2 separate regions of the Homo sapiens genome follow, and region 2 is linked to region 1. Evidence: fine-mapped expression QTL. A gene starts in region 1. The other region holds a variant in brackets. All regions are shown on one strand. Distances are from middle to middle.

The links.
Region 2: its variant is fine-mapped to the expression of ADAMTS2 in nucleus accumbens (GTEx, PIP above 0.99). The same link has a PIP of 0.9 or more in anterior cingulate cortex, hippocampus and putamen.

What each region holds. Positions count from the first base shown.
Region 1 is chr5:179,342,025-179,350,512 of GRCh38, forward strand. ADAMTS2 (ADAM metallopeptidase with thrombospondin type 1 motif 2) reads right to left here and starts at 3,437. Exons shown (of 22, transcript NM_014244.5): 1 at 3,166-3,437; 2 at 1,743-2,137. The coding sequence starts at 3,304. LOC105377759 (a long non-coding RNA gene) reads right to left here and starts at 7,231. Exons shown (of 3, transcript XR_941311.3): 1 at 6,910-7,231; 2 at 4,922-5,074; 3 at 4,337-4,755.
Region 2 is chr5:179,162,446-179,170,933 of GRCh38, forward strand. The region is part of intron 5 of ADAMTS2 (ADAM metallopeptidase with thrombospondin type 1 motif 2); the gene reads right to left. Among named protein-coding and RNA genes, the nearest start is that of ZNF354C, 110 kb to the left of the region's middle. RefSeq lists an enhancer at 4,643-5,144 and a silencer at 4,758-4,967. The variant G/C (reference allele first, on the strand shown) is at 4,453.

The DNA.
Region 1 (8,488 bases):
GCCAGAGTGTCCGTCAGCCACCCTGACGACAGGAGCCCTGGGTGGGTACCAGACCTGCCTCATTGCTGACCAGTACAGGGGATAAACATATGAGAAGGTGCTGGCTGAAAAATGAATCACCAAATGAACTGCTGAATGAATGAAACAGTGACAAGTCCTCCCCAAAATGCTCTCCATCAGGAATGCATAGTACACAGGTGTTGGCCCACCAACAGACTGCAACCCCATGTCAACTCCCACCACCTTACCTCACCCTAAGTCCGCAGCAAACATCTCCTTTCATTTAGGAAATTAACCTCCAGCGTAAAATGGGACACACCTCTGAGGCCCAGGATGTCCTCAGAGACAGTGGGCGATGTCAAGGGCTCACCATTTTAACCCAGCTCCTCCAGGGATATTTACAGTTGTTTGCAATATGGCCAAGTTCTAACTAAATCCAGCCAAAGGCAGTGATTTTCCAAAGCAACAAGTGATATTTTCTGTGTCTCCATAAAAAGAATGACAGTGGTTGCAGAGCCCTGGTGTAATTGCCGGCTCTGCAGACTGTAGGATGAGCCTCAGCTGCCCGAGTACGGGCGTGCTCAGGGGCCACGGGGGCTGGGAGAGTGGCCACTCACTCGGGGCAGGAGTTCCCTGAGTAGCAATTAGAGCGGAACCCATGGTGGGCGGCTTCAGATGTCTGGCCAGCACAGCCAGCCTGACCACCACACACCCAATCCAAAATAGAAAACTGCAGTGGCCTCTGCTGTGTGCCAGGCCCCGGGCAGCCGGACAGAGCACCGCCAATGTCAGCCTCCTCCCTCAGCATCGATCCAGGCTTCCTCTGAGGCCCCCTTGTGCTGAGCCACGGTCCCTCCTGCCCTCTCCAGGAAGCAGAGCTTCCCAGAGCTCCAGTCACAGGACTAGAGAGGCGCAGGCAGTCTCAAAAGGGATCCCCTAGCCTCTCTCTTGTCCTTCAGGCGCTGCCCCCAAAAGATCGAGCAGCTCATGGGCACTAGAGCCTTCATTTCCAAATGCACCCCTCAGCTCAAAATAGAGAAAACCAACTTTTCAAAGAACCAGCTGGAGTTCAACAGGAAACCACAGCAGAAAAACCAATGATTCCCGGTCAGCCAAGGGGCAGAGGGCTAACTGGGCATTTCAGCATCACTGCCAGCTCCCTGGGCTGGTATTACCCGCACGCAAGGAAACAGGAAGACTGACTGCCAGCCCATAAGTCCACCACACACATATCACGCCAGTATGCACAAGGACGGACACAAACTCAACAGATGCTCAACACACTGATGTGCAGAAACCCAGACACATACGTGCACAAGAGACACTGGCACACGCACATGTTCACACAGGTGCACGGGCACCCAGATGCAGGTACACACCAACGTTCCACAACACATGTGCACACACTCACAAAGGTACACACACATACACGGACCCACCCCCGGATGCAAGCCAGAGACCTGTTCAGGCAGGCAAAAGAGAGAGGCGCACGCTCCTGCCTGCTGAGCCTTTTGGAGACCCGGGCGCTCCCCATGCATAAATGGCCCCCTGCTCAGACCAGTCAAAACAACCTGCTTTCCAGCCAAGCCCTTCAGTTGGAGCACGAGGCTCACTAAAGCACGGGAAGGGCGCGGAAAGTCCTCAGCGCAGGCCTTGCCCTCCCAAGGGACTCCCAGGTAACCCTTTTCCAAAACCCAGGCGAGAGCAGCGGAGAGAAAGGAGCTAGAGAAGTGCGTACTCACCAGCCCATCGCAGTTGCTGAGCGCCACAGAGGAGGCTTCGGCTAGGCCGGCCACGTCTCCGACGTAGAGACAGCTCCCGAGCAGGGGCTCCACGCGGGTGGTGCCCTTCTCGCCCTGCCACTCCATAGTGGCCCCGGGCGCCACGAGGCGGGCGTTGGGCCGCAGCCGCAGGTGCAGGTCTCGGCCAAAGACCGTGACATTGTAGAAGAGGTGACTGCCAGGCTCCTCCTCGTTGCCTCCGGGGAAGCTCGGGGTCCGGACCGGGGCGGCCCTGCGGGCTCGTACCCCTGCTCTGGACGTAGCTGCCGACACCACGTGGGACACCAAGCGGCCCTGGGCGTCAGTGCGCACGGGCACCGCCAGGATGCGCTCCGCTCCGTGCCCCAGGGGCCCGCCTGCAACGGGAAGGGGCGTTAGATCGGCGGAGACCACGGAGCCCCAGTGCCTCAGAGACCCGCCGGCAAGCCACGCCCCCCCAGACCCCGCCCCACTGCGAAGGGAAGGGGCATTCCGCCAGGCGACCCCAGAAGCCAGCCTGCACCTCCCCGGCTTTCCTGCAACCGGGAAGGGGCGTTAACAGGGCCACCACTCCGGGGCTCCGCCACTCCCCAGCCGTTCCCTCCTCCGGAGACCTTGCCTGCCAAGAGCTCTGCCCCCTGCCCCGTTCAGGGTTGGGGCTCGGTGGGAACCTCCCCGTGCCCGAAGGGACGACCCCGTCAGAGAGTCCCCCGACCCTTGCACCTACCGTCCTTGGCAGGACGTGGAGCTGCTCGGAAGCCATTCCGGGTTGGCCCCCTTACCCGTGTGCCACGACCCCTCGGCGGGCCCCTGCCGCCCGAGTGCCCTCACCGCCAGCCTCCGGAGCGGCGGAGTCTCGGCTTCCCCGAGCACGAGCGGCCTGTCCTGCCTGTCCAGCTCCCGCTCAGCCCGCTGCCGGCCCCGTCTCCCCGAGCGCCCGAGGACTGGGAGGGGTGGAACAGGGTCCCTCCGATCTCCGGGGATTCCCTGCGGGGCGCCCCAACCAATCCTTAGGGCCCAAGGCTACGCGCTCGGCAGCCGGCTCCTCCGGAGCGTCCCCGGACGCGAGCCCCGGCGCCGCCTCGCCCTGGCTCCCCCCTCGGACCCGCTGGGGCTGACTCTGCGCTCTTGGCCGCGGGGCTTTTCCCGGCCCTCCGTCCCCACCCTCCGCGACTCAGGAGCCGCCAGTGCTCCGAGGCTCCCCCGGCCCAAGGCGCTCGGGGGCGGTGCGGGGCGCCCCCTGCGCGACCAACCCGGCCCCGAAGTTGGCCAACTTGGCCCCGGGCGGGGCGCGCGGAGTTTGCCCAAGTCAGGCTGGACGACGCCTGGGGAGGGGGCGGCGGGGCACGCGGGACAGGGCCAGGCCGGCGGGGGTCCCGGGGAGTAGGGGCCGGGCCGCACCTACCTGGGGGGTCGGCGGCGGCGGCGAGCCTGGCGTTCGCGGGCGGCGGCGGCGGCGGCAGGAGCGGCGGCGGCAGCAGCAGCAGCAGCAGCAGCAGCGCGGGGCAGAGCAGGCGGCGAGCGGCTCCCGCCGGCGGATCCATGGCAGCCGGACTGCAGCCGGGGCCCCGCACTCGCAGCCGGCGCGAAAGTTCCCCGCGAGCCGCCCAGCCCACATCTGGGGGCAGCTGGAGCCGCCCGCAGCTGCAGCACCGCAGGGCGCGGGGCGGAGGAGGCGAGGCGCGGAGGGGCGGGCGGGGGAGCGCGGAGGGAAGGCGGGGAGAGGGAAGGAGCGAGCGAGCGAGGGAGGCAGGCGGGAGGGAGGGAGGCGAGCGAGGGGGAGGGCGGGGACGGCGGGCGCCTCAGCCTGCGGTGACCCGGCGCATCTTGGCGCGGCCGCCGCCGCCGCCCGCTTCCCTCTTCGCGCCGCCGTCGCCGCGGTGCCGGGCTCGCAGCGAAGCAGAGACACCCCGAGGCGGCGGCAGAGAAGCGCCGCGGGCCGGGCCGGGGGAGCCCCGCCGCCAGCCACCCCAGGGGCACAACCTCCGAGGAGCGGCGCCGGCCGAACGTCCCCACCTAGAGAGCCCTTGGGGTGCCGGGTCCCACCCATCAGCCCTGGAATTCAAGGGGTGCATCCCCCTGTCTCTGTGCTCTGGGGCAGGACAGGGTGAGGGAATGAAAGGGGAGGGGGGACTGACTACTGGGTCCAAGGTCTGAGCCAGGCCGAATGCCCAAATAGAGGCCGCAAAGGCCAGAAGATGCTGTTAGGAGGGTACACCCAGGGCGCGACCCCAAAGATCAACTTTTGCCCTTACTGAGAGAGGCAAGGCTCCTTCAGTCCCCAGTTCCTCTTCCTCTGAAGTCCCTGTCCCCTGTCCCCCATCTGCCTTCCCATCCCTCCGCTGCAGCCTCAGCACAGCCTCTTCCTGCCAGACCTGGGCTCTCTGCCCATGAGCACAGTCAGGCTCCTGCCCTCACCTGTCCTCAACCCCACGTATGCATTCTGTCCTCCCGCCATTGCACTCCCGGCCCCCAACCTGAAATGGCCTCTCCAAGCTCTGCCTACCTTTTCCACCCAAGCATCCAAGGACACCTGGGCCCATTCTGGGGCCAGTTTGCTGTTAGAGCCCGTTGCCAACCGGAACCCCTCCCCAGTCCCTCCTCTCCAGCAAGGCCCTGATCCTCCCATGCTGTCTGAGCTCAGCGGCCTCTCTCCAGGGCCTGCCTGAGAGCCCCCTCTCAGGCTGTTGATCATCTCTGCCCTGGGACCCCCAATTTCTGCCTCACTTCCCCAGAGGGTGAACACCCACCCCTTTGATTTTCTCATTTGCCCTGCCCCAGGTCTGTGTGGCCAGGGCTTTGGTCTTTGCTTTGGCCAGGGGCAGAGGACCCGGAGATGACTCAGGCCTCTCCCTGCTGGCCAGGAGGTCCCAGTCGTTGGGGGAAACACGACTTACACAGCAGGCTCTAACTGTGATCTCACGTCCTTGGTTCTTTCGATTGTGGGTCCTGGGTGTGAGAGCATCGCAGCTGGACAGCCATCTTCACCTGCAAGCTGTACTCTTTCTGTGTCACCTAAGGGTGCCCGAGGCTGGATCCAGCTCCCAGGCATGGTGAGATGTCACATGGAAATTTAGATTGGTAACTTTTCTTGAGATATTGGAAGATGTGGCCACGCTAGCCCCACAGTCCTGCTTAGCAACCATTAAATGGGCACTTACCTTGCAGTTTGTGGCAGGTCCCGCCTCTCCTCACTCTCTGTAGGCATCTGCTCTCGTGACCTGTGATGACCCAACTGGTTCCAGAGAAAGTTGGAACTGGAATCCTAGTATACCACAGAGATGACTCCAGAGCTGGGCATCCAGGAGGACTTCCTGTAAGAGGTGGCATGAGTTGAATTGTGAAGGCTGGGGGAGCTAGGCAGCCCAGAGTTGGGTCCAGCCAGTTGCTGTCCTGGAACCCATGACGCATTCCTCCTGTGGTTGTCAGCGCTTCCATCCTCTTCGAAACACGAGTGAAACCCAACCAGCAGCCGCCCCTACTTCAAGGGGCATGTTCTGCACCTTCCTGCCGTGTCTATGGTTGGGTATTTCTTTACACAGCGCCTAAAACTTTTTTCAATTTTTTAAAGGATACTTTAAATCACTACTATAAATGGAAAAGCCAGCATCTCACCATGTTTCCATAAATCAAAGATAATTGCTAAAAATAAATACAACAAGAAGAGAAATGTTATCAAATTCCAGATACTTTGACCTGCTAAAGATACCGAAGGCTGAAGCTGATTAGTAAGTGTTACAAAAGCCTTAAGATGGACTAGCACAGAGGTCGTTGTTCTGATGTGATTGGAAGGATGAAAGGAGGCCTGAAAAGGAGTAACTCTGACTTTATGAGTTGATGGCATCTTCTAACAGGTTCACAGAGCTAAATTATTTTGTATACTTTGGGATACTTGCTTTGGGATATTTTTGGGGGAAAGAATTTGTCTCCTGGACACTGAATAACCCCAGGCAGCTGATTCTTCCCACATCACCCGTGCCCCTGCCACCAGGGATGAGTTGGGGATGGAGCAGCACCCTTGCCTGGCCCTTCCTTTAGTGCCCCCACTGTCACCCACCAGGGTGGTGGATGAACAAGGCTCACATGCACCTAACTTCACAGTTAAACCCTCAGGGAGGTGGAGGAGACTTGCAGACACATCCCAGCCCGTGATCATTTGTCCTCCACTCAGAAACAAACAGAAAAACAAAAAACAACCAAAGAACAACAACAAAAATCTTGCTACTTCTTCAAACCTCCATGATTCAAATCTTGCCTCTCCCCCCTTACTGGTGTTTGCCTCTTTCTCTGGTCCCCCTTTTCCTCTTCCAGGTAAAATACGGGACATAGAAGTCCCCAGTGGCTCTCTGCTCCTCTGCATGTTCAGTCTAGGTCCCAACGACAAAAACTAAGGGCCACTGGGCCAACGCCGCCGGATGTGTTGTTGAGCACATGCCACGTGCGTTCGTTTCTACTGGAGCCTGAATGTCTTCAGGTCTGGCTGTGCTCTCCAGCTTACCGCAGTCCTCACCACCCCCTGTTGCCCTACACCTGCCTATTGCTCGTGATTGTCAGCACCATGATCCCTGAAAACCTGGAGTTGTCACCCTCACCGAGAAGCCCAGTGTTTGTAGGGAGGAGTGAGGACAAGTCAGCGTCAGCTCGGGCCTTACACACCCAACCCCCTTAAAATCTTCCCAAAGTTGTGTGGTGCAGAAAGAGGTGAGGACCTTTCCGGGTCATCTTGGGTGCCACGAGTCACCCCACATCCCTGGCAGAAGAAACACTAAGGAGGAGGAATGTTTGTTGCCCACCACAGCTCTCAGTGGGTGGGTGCCCTGCCTTGCCCTGAGAGGAGGGTCGGGCTCCCTGGTCTGGCTCAGGCTTCCAGGTCACATTTGTCAGCACAGACTTCATTAAAGACAGGAGCCCATTTGAGAGCCACTGCTGTCTCCTAATGTCTGCACAGAAACCAGCCCCTGAGAAGGTCTCCTGCCCTTTGACAAAGTCACCTTTCTTGGCACAACCTGCCAAGCAGATGGAGGCAGTGAGGTTTCAGTGCCCTCCCTAATGACAAACAAGCTCTTAGGGGCTGTGGGAAAGGAGCTGGACTCTTTTAGTCTCACTGGTGCCTGTGTGCAGAGCGGGCCAAGCATGAGGGGCTAGTTACCTTGTCGAGGGGCCTTGAGGACAGCAGCTCTGTCCAACTTTGCTGTTGGCAAACAGCGGGTGCAGTGGTCCCATCAGATGCTCTGGCGGAGTTCTGGCCGGGAGTGGCCCTGGTGAGCCATATGTCAAGGGAATGCTGATTGAACAGAATGTGGAGGCTGGGTGGCCTCTAGGAAGTGTGGTTCTTGCTGTTTCTTGAGCGTGCCCCTCCCCGACGCCATGTACACACTTTAATAGGGAGCCGTGTCCAGCAAAAGAGGAAACGTGGGTGGTGTTTCAGTAGCAATTGTTTTTACTGCCATTGCAGCACGGAGGCATCCCCTCGCCACTGAGATCGATTCTGCCTGGAAGTGGAAGACAAAGTGCTTGAGGTTTGGAGGCTTGGGGATCAGGGCTCAGTTAACATTTCTACATGGAGATGCAAGATGGAGACTCAGACTCAGTCTAAGCATTAATGGCCCAGGGAAGGATGTAGCTTAATGCCTATCTGTGATTGTCCACTTACACATATGCTCAGCCTAGCAGAGAGAACAGAGAAAAATTTTAAAGGGGCTATCTGGGTGTGTCAGGCAGTGACGCCACTTGAGCTGGGGTCTAAATCTCTGGGTTCACCTGTGTCTGGCCCCTGTCTGGGGTCGGGGGCCATTTTGTCCAGCCCCCTCATCTGGGAAAGGCCTTTGGGTCCCTCAGGATGCTCCTGGCTGCAAGTAAGACAGCCAGCTTAAACCATGAGGAAATGCATCAGCTCACGCACCCGGAAGTCTACAGGTGTGGTGGCCACGGAGCTTAACCGCAGCACCAAGGGCCCTGCTGCCTGCCTAGCATCTTTGCCCCAACCAGGTAGAAGGATGGCCAAAGCACAGGTGCACTGCCCTCTCCCAGAAGGACCGCTGTCTCCCCTGTGGTCTGTGGGCCAAGGCTGGGTCATTTGCTGAACCAGTTGCTGACAGGCGGTGGGTGAAGGGATGACTGGGACAAACCTGGATTAACCATCGCGTCTACCCCAGTGCCCCCAGCATTGCCTTCTGTCTTTATTTCCAAATCAGAGTATTGCATAGTCCCAGGCATCCTCCTGCCTGGCAAAAGAAGTTTTTCCCATGTGACGCTATATTTGTGTCCCACTCCTATACTACACCATCTGTACAGCATGCAGAATTCCTTTCTTTTTATGTAAATCCTGTAGGTAACTAGTGAAGGGCCCAGTTCTATTACATTATGGAGATCTGTGTTCAAAGCCTTTTCTAAGCCTGTCTGGACGCTTCCTTACTTCCTAGATTTTGAGGAAAGCCATCGGTGACCCCAGCCCAGGCCTTGCTAGATCCCCAGGATCCCTGGCCTCTGGGGCTTCATTACCTTTAGGTCACCCTCTGTGGCAATGTCCTTCCATCCAGTCCAGCCTGACCCTTCCCAGTTCACGGGATCAAGGATGTGGGCCTTAAAGACACCGAAGCTTCTGGCTGGGACTTCAGGGCTACAGTGCCCATGATGAAGCCCTAAGACGAAGACCGTGGTGGGAGGAAAACTCTGGGTGCATGGCTGGGGGGCTCCGGCCATCTCTACAGCCTTGGGGACCCCACTTC
Region 2 (8,488 bases), 180 kb before region 1:
TAAGACTGGGGCTGCAGTCTCATCTGAAGGCTGTACCGGAGGCGGGTCAGCTCCCAGGCTCATTCAGGTGGTCACGGCGGGCCCCAGCTGAGCTGTTGCACACCATACCGTATGGGCCCCTCCTGGGGCCGTCACCCATGTCAGCTTTACCCCACACGGTCGCCCCTGCTCGAGGGACCCAAGAGACAACAAGAGAAGGCACCTCCCCTACAGAAGCCACAGTCTGCTTTTGATAGAATCTCAGTCCCGCCTACCGCAGGGCATGGACATTAAGAGACTGGGTCACTGGCGGCCATCACGAAGGCTGCCTGCCACTGACGGGTGTCATTTATGCCTGAAGAAGTTCCTCTCCTTGTGAAAGCCAATTCTGAGTTGTGCTCTTGTCACTTGCAGCGAAGAGAATCTGAGCCACGTGCTTCCTCCTTTGGGGGACCACAGGGACCCCAGTCAGGACACTCGCTGGCCCATGAAAGATGGCGTCTGATCTGGGGGCAGCTGATATGTTCTGGGGGCAGTTTATATGCTTCTCAGTGGGAGAAGGGCCCTGGCCAAGTCTTTGAGGAGGAGTCAAGAGTCCAGCCAGAAAGACATGCCCCAATATCAGGACCAGAGGCAGGAATGAGGCTAGTGTGTAGGACAGAGCTGCGGGAGGAGCCAGGCTGAGGCAGGCTGGGGGTGTGCAGGGAGGTCCGCTATCCTAGTGTGTGGGCTTGTGGGGAGTACCGGGAGGATGCTAGAAACCCAAGCGCCTACAGGAGCAAGGCAGGTGACAAGTCAATGAGGCAGGCTGGTTGCACGAAAAGTAAGTCCATCTTGTGTTTTCCCAGTTTTGAAGGAGAAAGGGTACAGAGGAATATTTCCCTATTAGAATAGAGTGGGGGTCGGTGATAAGGAGTGGCGAGGACTGTGGCAAACCCAGGTGCCCAGGCACAGCTGAAGGGAGCAACATCCGCCCAGTGCTGGCAGGAACAGAGGCCCAGAGCTGCTGGATCAGATTTCTCAGGTCAATCGTGAAATCTGGATTCTACAGACACCTACCTAATAGTAAACACTGGCTCAAATTGAAATCAGTTATGCAGACAAAACAACGCATCCTCCCCGTCACCACTTTATTCCAGAACCCTGGAATAAGAGCCCTGCAGTGGGCAGCCCCTTCTCCACGTCCTGCAGACTGGATCCACTCTGGCCGATCACCTCTCTCCTCCCAGATGCTGGCTTCTGTGGTTCAGCCTGGGTTCCCAGCCCGTCTTAGCAGCCAAAGTGATCTTGCTGCTGCGGCAAGACAATTTATTGAAATATTGATTTGTGTTTTTGTTCTTGCCTCGCTTTGTTCTCGGCCCAGTCCAAGAAGGCAGCCTGCCACTTTCGTTCTCCAACCCCAAGGAGGTTGTGCTGCAGGGTCCAGAGCTAAAGGGGTCTATGACCCCCTTCTGGCTTTGGGGTTCTGAGGAGACTCCCTGAGGAGGGGGCAGAGGGGAGGGCTGGGGTGCATGGGCACAGGGAGGGGAAGCTGCACTGGGGCCAGGGGAGCCCTGGGAGGCAGGACTTCAGGAGACATGAGAGTGTGCTAGACCCTGGGAGCCTGGGTCCCAGCAGGGGGTACCCCAAGAAGTAGAGGAGAGGGTTACCTCAGTGTCCGGGCACCCCAGGACTCAACCTGCCACTGGGAGCTTAACTGACAAGCCACAGAGCTGCTTGTGCTTCCTCTCTCTCTCTGCCAACGTCCCAACATCTCCAAGGTCCCAGCCTATCTCTGACGGGCACAGAGGAGCCCAGGGGCAGAGATCTTGTCCTTGCTGGGTCTGGAGCATTCAAGGGCTATGGGGTACCCATGAGGCCCAGACATTGACCTTGTGCCCAGAGGCCAGGGCAAGGTCTGTGTGCATTCTTAAAACAGCCCTTTGGGTCAGTGAGGAAGGAGTGGGGATAGAAGGGGACAGTGTGGCACTGAGATGCATGCAGGTGTGGCTGGTGCCACGTCAGGAGGGTCAGGACCTGGTGGCAGGAGCTGAGAGGCATCAGGGCTGCAGGGCGGGAGCAATGAGGCAGAGACGGCACCAGTGTCTGGCTTTGGGGATTGGTAGCAAGGCAGAAGAGGCGGCGCGGGAAGGGGACGGCAAGTGCCAGAGGAAGAGCGTGGGGTCCGCAGTGCAGGAAACATGGTCACGGCAATGTCTTTCCTGGCCAGCTTGCTCGTTGGGAAGAGCTGGGCTGTTTTGCTTTGGGAGCTCTCCCACTTCTGGGGGTGCAGCCCTTGTGGGTGATCAGTCCCAAGCCGTAGCTGGGACCCATGTTAGGCCCATGGAGCACAGGTTCGAAAGGACTGAAAACTGGCTGAAGTGGGTTTGCCTGGTGGCAGCACCCAAAACAACCATCCGCAAACTCAGGCTCATGCACCCCAGAGCCCCCTTTCCTCCACCCACTCCTCCCACTCCATGAGAGCTACAGGCAGCCTTGGGTTCTGCATGCCTCTAAGGACTCCTCACAGAAAGAAACTGATGTCCAGGCAGAGACATCGGGGCAGCTGGACAGGTCTGCGGCCCAGGAGGGAAGTCTGGGCTGGCCGTGGACAGGGCAAGGCCCTCGCTACTGGAGGCAGTCGGAACCCAAGGGAAGAGCCAAGCTCAGGTCTCTCCGCTGAGACCTCCAGCCAAGGATACTGTCCTGACATGCAGTGAACTCCCCTGTGGGTCACTTGGGCTCCAGCGGGACCACCTGCTGGGATGCGACCTCCTTTGCTCCTCTGCCACCTGGCCTGCATGCAGGAGGCCAGATGGGTCCCTGCTGCCTGGGGCACCCCAGCCCCCACCATCCTGTGCCCTTGCTATGTATCAAGCCTGGGAACTGTGCTTCCCCTGAGCGAGAAGAAGACACATTTCTCATATATGGATCTCCTCCAGAAGTGAGGGAGGCTGCACTGCTTGTTTCCACTGAGGAGTCTTTCACCAGCTCGCCCTGGTCATCTACGTCCCTCCCAGTCCTGAATGCACCTGACTTCCAGCTGCCTGCTCGGCTCTGCACGGCTCCTCTAGGAAAGTCTGTCTGTGTGACTCCACCTGTTCCTAGCTGTGCTGAGGGGGGGACCAGGAGTGAGCCGTAGCACCCTGGGCTCTGCAAAGGGGGTGGCTGCAGGACCAGCCAGGGACTTTACAGGGCAGCCAGTCCCTCCCAGGGGCAGCCGCGGGCACCCAGCCTCCAGAGCAGGGGGCGGTAGATGGTGCTGTATGACCGGGGATGGACATTTCGAGGCCCTGGGGCTGCATGGTAGCTGCAGGGTCCACCTCCTGAGTGAGGCAGGGCCTCTGAGGGCAGACTCTTCACAGCGGCAGCAGCTCCCAGAACTCCCAGGTCCAGCCTAGGGCCCCAGAAGAGCCAGGCGGGAGAAGCCTGCAGTAGGGCTGTGGATGAAGTCCAGGGGCCCATCCAGCCCAGGATGCAGGAGGAGTCCTGAGTGGGCTGACCCTAGCTCAGAGCACGGGAACAGATGAGCTTCCAAGAGGCTGATCGGATCCTCTACAGGGGCCCCAGGACAGTCGTCACCCCTCATGGAGGGCTCTGCCACCCCTGTTTGGAGGTGACATCGACCACTGCAGACATGGGCTCCCAACTGGGCTCCACTGCCCGAGTGCTCTGGGGCCCTGGACCAGGCTGGCTCTTCCAGAGTGCAGGGTCCTCCTTGGCCATCATGAGTGCCCACCTATGTCCACATGGAGACCCTCCTTGCTATGCTGGTTCACAGAGCTGCCCAGATGCAGGAGGCAGACACTCGTCCAGGCCCCTGGGGCCCTCCCACAGCAGCACCGGGAGCCTGGTCCCAAGAAGGATGGTGTTTCCTCCGGGTTCAGCCTGTTTGGCTCCCCTGGCCCGGGCTGGAAAGGGTCTGAGGACATGCCTGAAAGACCCAGGGATCCCACCATGAGGTGGAGAGGGCAGATCTGAGGGCCTTAGGGAGGCAAGAGCTTGATGGCCCTCACCTTGGGTCAGAAGGTCACTTTGCTGAATGCTCCCCAGGGCTGTCAGGAGGCTTGGCCAGGGCAAGGGTGAGGAAACACTGCGGGCCCCTGAACCTCAGGCCCAGCCTGCAGGGGTCTGGGTAACCCCACGGGCCTCAGGGAACAGCCAGGAGCTTAGGGGGCCCGTGGGCCTTGGGTGGACGAGTAGGCTGCGTCCAGCTCCAAGTCCCAGCCCCATCCTGGCCGCGGGACCCTGGCTCTGAGCTGCCCGCCGGGTCCCTCCTCCTGCGTGCGATCGGTCACCTGCCAGATGGGGCACCTACTGGGGATGTGCCTGTTGCTGTCGCTGGCCTCTGAGTCACTAAAGCCTAAGCTCCTTGAGGGCCGGGTGGTTGCTGGGCCCGAGTCTGTGCCCCAGCCCTGGCCCACGCCTGCCCTCAGTAGCCCCACTCCTCCCTTCACGGAGCAATCCCGGCTTCTGCTCTCCATGCCAGGATGA[G/C]GCAGCGAACGCGGCCAGAGGACCCCGGCTGCTGGGCGCTCAGTGATGAAGGAATGAACACGAGCACCCTCAGGAGCCAGGCTGGGCAGGGAGGGAGGCGCCGGCTGCGGGGACGTTCTCGGGAGGCCTGGGGAAGTGAGCCCAAAGGGCCGCCCCGGCAGATGCTGACCCCAGCAGGAAGTCACCGTCCGCAAGGAGCGCCCCGCTAGGCTCAGGCTTGGCACACGACACCTCGCTTCCACTTCATTTTCCTACCTTCCGGATGACGAACTGCGTCTCAGACAACTGAAAGGACTCGCCTGAGTCCCACAGCCGGAAAGAGGTCGGGGTGCTGCCCCCCGCGCGGGGCGGGCAGAGGAAGGGCCGGGCCCGAGCGGCCACCAGGTGGCGCTGCTGCCGCGAGAACAGCGGCCCGGGCCGGGGACGCACCCGGCGCCCAGACTCCGCGGCCGCACCCGGGCTCCCGGGGCCCCAGCGGCCCCAAGACAGCCTCTGGGCCTCACCCTAAATACATCAATTATGACCTGAGCAAAAAGTTCTGTTCCAATCGTTGCTCTCCGACATTTCCATTGTTTGCTCTGGAAGGAGCTGAATTATCTATGCTCTTCCCTCCTTCAGTCAAGGAGACGTGGGAGGAAACCGGGATGGGGATCAGCAGCCTGGAGGCCGCCTCCGCTGGAACCGCGCCCGCCCCGCCAGGAGGCTCTGCCTGCTGGGCAAGGCGCACTCAGCCAGCCCCGCAGGCCGCCACGCGACCGAGGCTCACCAAGTCCACTGCAGGTGGCAGGTGAGGTCACCTGGGCAGCTCTAGGCCCGGCCGAAATATCTCATCTGCTCTGTTCTTGGGCAAGTTACCTTACTTGTCCCCACCTGCAAAATGGGCACAACTGCAGCTCCGAGCTTGGAGCTGGGGGGCTTCCGCCCATGACAGTTCAGGCAGGGTGCAGTCAGCGCCCACAAATGTCCCTTGTCCTTGTCTCTGCCGTGCTGTTGATACTGATGGAGTATAACACCAGTCCCTGGGGACTGGCCTACCCGCTGGGGCTGGCTCATGCCCCCAAGGGGATGCGGCTTCAGCAAAGCTTCTCAACCGTCCCCATCCCAGAGGGGCCCTCCTGCCTCAGACCAGCCTCCTAAACAGGTGCAGGATAGGACAGCAGGGAGGTTGGGTTCTGGTGAGCAGACCACATTTCTCAACCTCAGCACTCCAGATATTTGGGGCCAGATAATTCCTGTTGGGTGAGGCGGGCACCCTGTTCATGGCAGGATGTTGAGCACACCCCTGGGCACTCCTTGCCAGAACCCAGTGGAACCCTCCCCCTAGTCGTGACAACCAAAAGTCTCTCCAGACACTGCCAAATGTCCCCCGGGTGGGGGGAGGGGTGGCAAAGTCACTCTTGGTTGGGAGCAACTGACCCTCAGGGGACCAGGACAAGGAGCCTGAAGCTGGTGCTCCTGACCAGCCGGGATCACAGAGTCCAGCCCCTCCTCCCAGAGCAGAGTGGCTCCACCAGCGTGTGGCCCCGGGCAGGCCGCTCGCCCCCTGGAGCCAGGGTCCTCACTGTCAAATGGGGATGATCACAGCGCCTACTCCACAGGGTTGCTGTGGGGGTGAGGGCATAAAGTCACATAAAGGGCTTCAGACGGTGCCTGTCCCAGAAGAAGCTCTACAAACAGTCACTTGCACGAACGCCTTTATGATTGTCGTCATTCCTGTTGTGTGCTGGGGTTTCACAGACCTCCTCTTATGGGGGAAACTAAGGCCCCATGATGTTAAATTGCTCACCAAAGGTCCCACGAGTATGGACAAAGCCAGAATGAATGGCAGGGACAAGGTCCCACCATCCCTGCTCTGTGAGCACATGTTCTACCGTGCCCCCCAGCTGAGTGCAAAGTGGGCTCCCCCAAGGCTGGAGGTCTCTTGTTCCAGGCAGGGCTTACAGATCAAATCTCATCACGACAGAGAACCACGAGAGCTGGGGCAGGAGGCGTGCACCTCATTTCTCTGCCAGAACTCCCATATCGTTCCAGCATTTTGTTTCCAGCCATCTTCCCCAAAGCCTGGGAAGCTATTCCCAGAGAGAGCCAAGCTGCCAGAACAGGATTCTCAACTTGAGCCTTCCCAGGCATGAGCCAGTGCAGGCCTGTGGGGAGGCAGAAGAGGGGCCTCCTGCTAGAATCTGAATGTTGTGTCCCCCACATTTGAAAGGTTGAAAGCTGAGAACCAATGTTATGGTATTAGGAAGTGTGGTCTTTGAGAGGTCATTAGGTCATGAGGGTGGAGTCTCCATAAATGAGATTAGCACCCTTACAAAAGAAGCCTGAGGGAGCCTGTTCACCCTTCCATCATGCGAGGGCACAGCTAGAAGGTGCCCTCTAGGAGGAATGGGTCCTTACGACACATCAGTTCTGCTGGCGTCCTGCTCTTGGACTTCCCAGCCCCCAGAACAGTGAGTAACACAATTCCATTGGTTATAAATTACTCAGTCTAAGGTATTTCTGTTATTGCAGCCCAAACAGACTAAGGCACCTCCCAAGGGCAGTGTCCAGCCTTAGTGCCTCCTAGTTCTCTGGACCCAGGTAGGTCTGGGTGAGGAGGTGGATGGAGGATGATGTGGGTGGGCCATCATGCCTTGCACCCCTATCAGGTTGGGGGTTGGGACCCAGATGCTCAGGAGGACAGGGGGCTGTCCCTGGGGTGAGGCATGGGGTGTGTTTCCCACCTCATCCCCTGTCCCAGATCCCCAGGGCCCTTGATATATCCTCCCCAGACCTTCACTTCCTGGCCTTCCTGCACCATGGCTGGGCCACTCTAAATCCTCTACCCTATAGGTGGGTGGGTGGGCACACCAAGCCCCCACCCCCAGCACCTCTCTTCTCGTGCTTTCCACTAAGAGACTCACATGCAGAATTTCTCAGACCTTTCACCTCCAATGCTGAAAAATTCCAGCAAGCATTCCACACTTTGTCTTGACCTGGTTTTTTATAACAAGACACTTTATGTCCTTCTCTGATGCTCCCCAAGTCTCTGATTTCCATTTGCTTTGATTTTCATCATCCTAGGAAATATTTAAAATGAGAACAGTTGAGTAGCTTTGGTACCTTCTCAAAAAATCAATTGAAAAGCCAGTTGCTATGCAACCTCAAGTGTTGCCGATGCTCTGCTCCCTGGCTGGTGGTATATTGTATAAAATAAGATCATCTCTTTTCTTCTGCTTTTTTTTAAGAAATGGAGAAAAATGTTGTTTTAGGAAAAACTTGAGATAACTCAGAGGCTTCTCATAAGCTAGAAGACAAACATGTCACTCAAACAAGTGCTACCAATTTTATCCCCACTGGAGCCTGGTGAGGCCTGGGGGACAGGCAATGGGGGAGCGGCAGGTGGGGAGCTGGTCTATTTCTGTCACAATTTGGGATGAATAACAGGAACCGAGTATCTGGGCCACTTTCTGCCCAAGTCTGGGTCATGGTCTCACATCCCCCAGAGTCTGTCCCCACCGTGGGGGGGACAGCTCAGCCCCCTCCTGACTGCCATCGCCTTGGTTTTGCCATGCTAAAATTCTTCTAGAGACGGGGGCCTCATTCCTTGACGGGAAGCCTGTGGTTCCTTGAAGAGCAGCTCATCAGAATTCATCCCCACCATGTGCCAAACTTTGTCCCCAGAGCCCCATCGAGAATCCCTGGCTGTGCTTCTCTGTGAGCAAAAGGGGTCTGTTCCCTTGGACACAGGAGCTAGGCCTTTTGCCCCCAGATCTTGGCTGGGAAGTCCCCATCCTGGCTGCTCCATCCATGGTCCCCTATTGCCTGCCACCCTGCTGTATTCCTTGCCGGTGCTCACCACTCTGTCGCTGTCTTGTCTGCTGCTACTGCCTGGACACAGGGCTCCTCTCCCCTCCTCGTTCATGCACCTCCCTGGGATTAAACAGCAGCTGCTCGGGAAGCCAGAGGCTCTGGGCTGGCCGGATGCTTTGGGGGCACAAGGATACATCTCCTCCCACGTTCATCAGACACCTCAGAGACCTGAAAACAGGGCCTC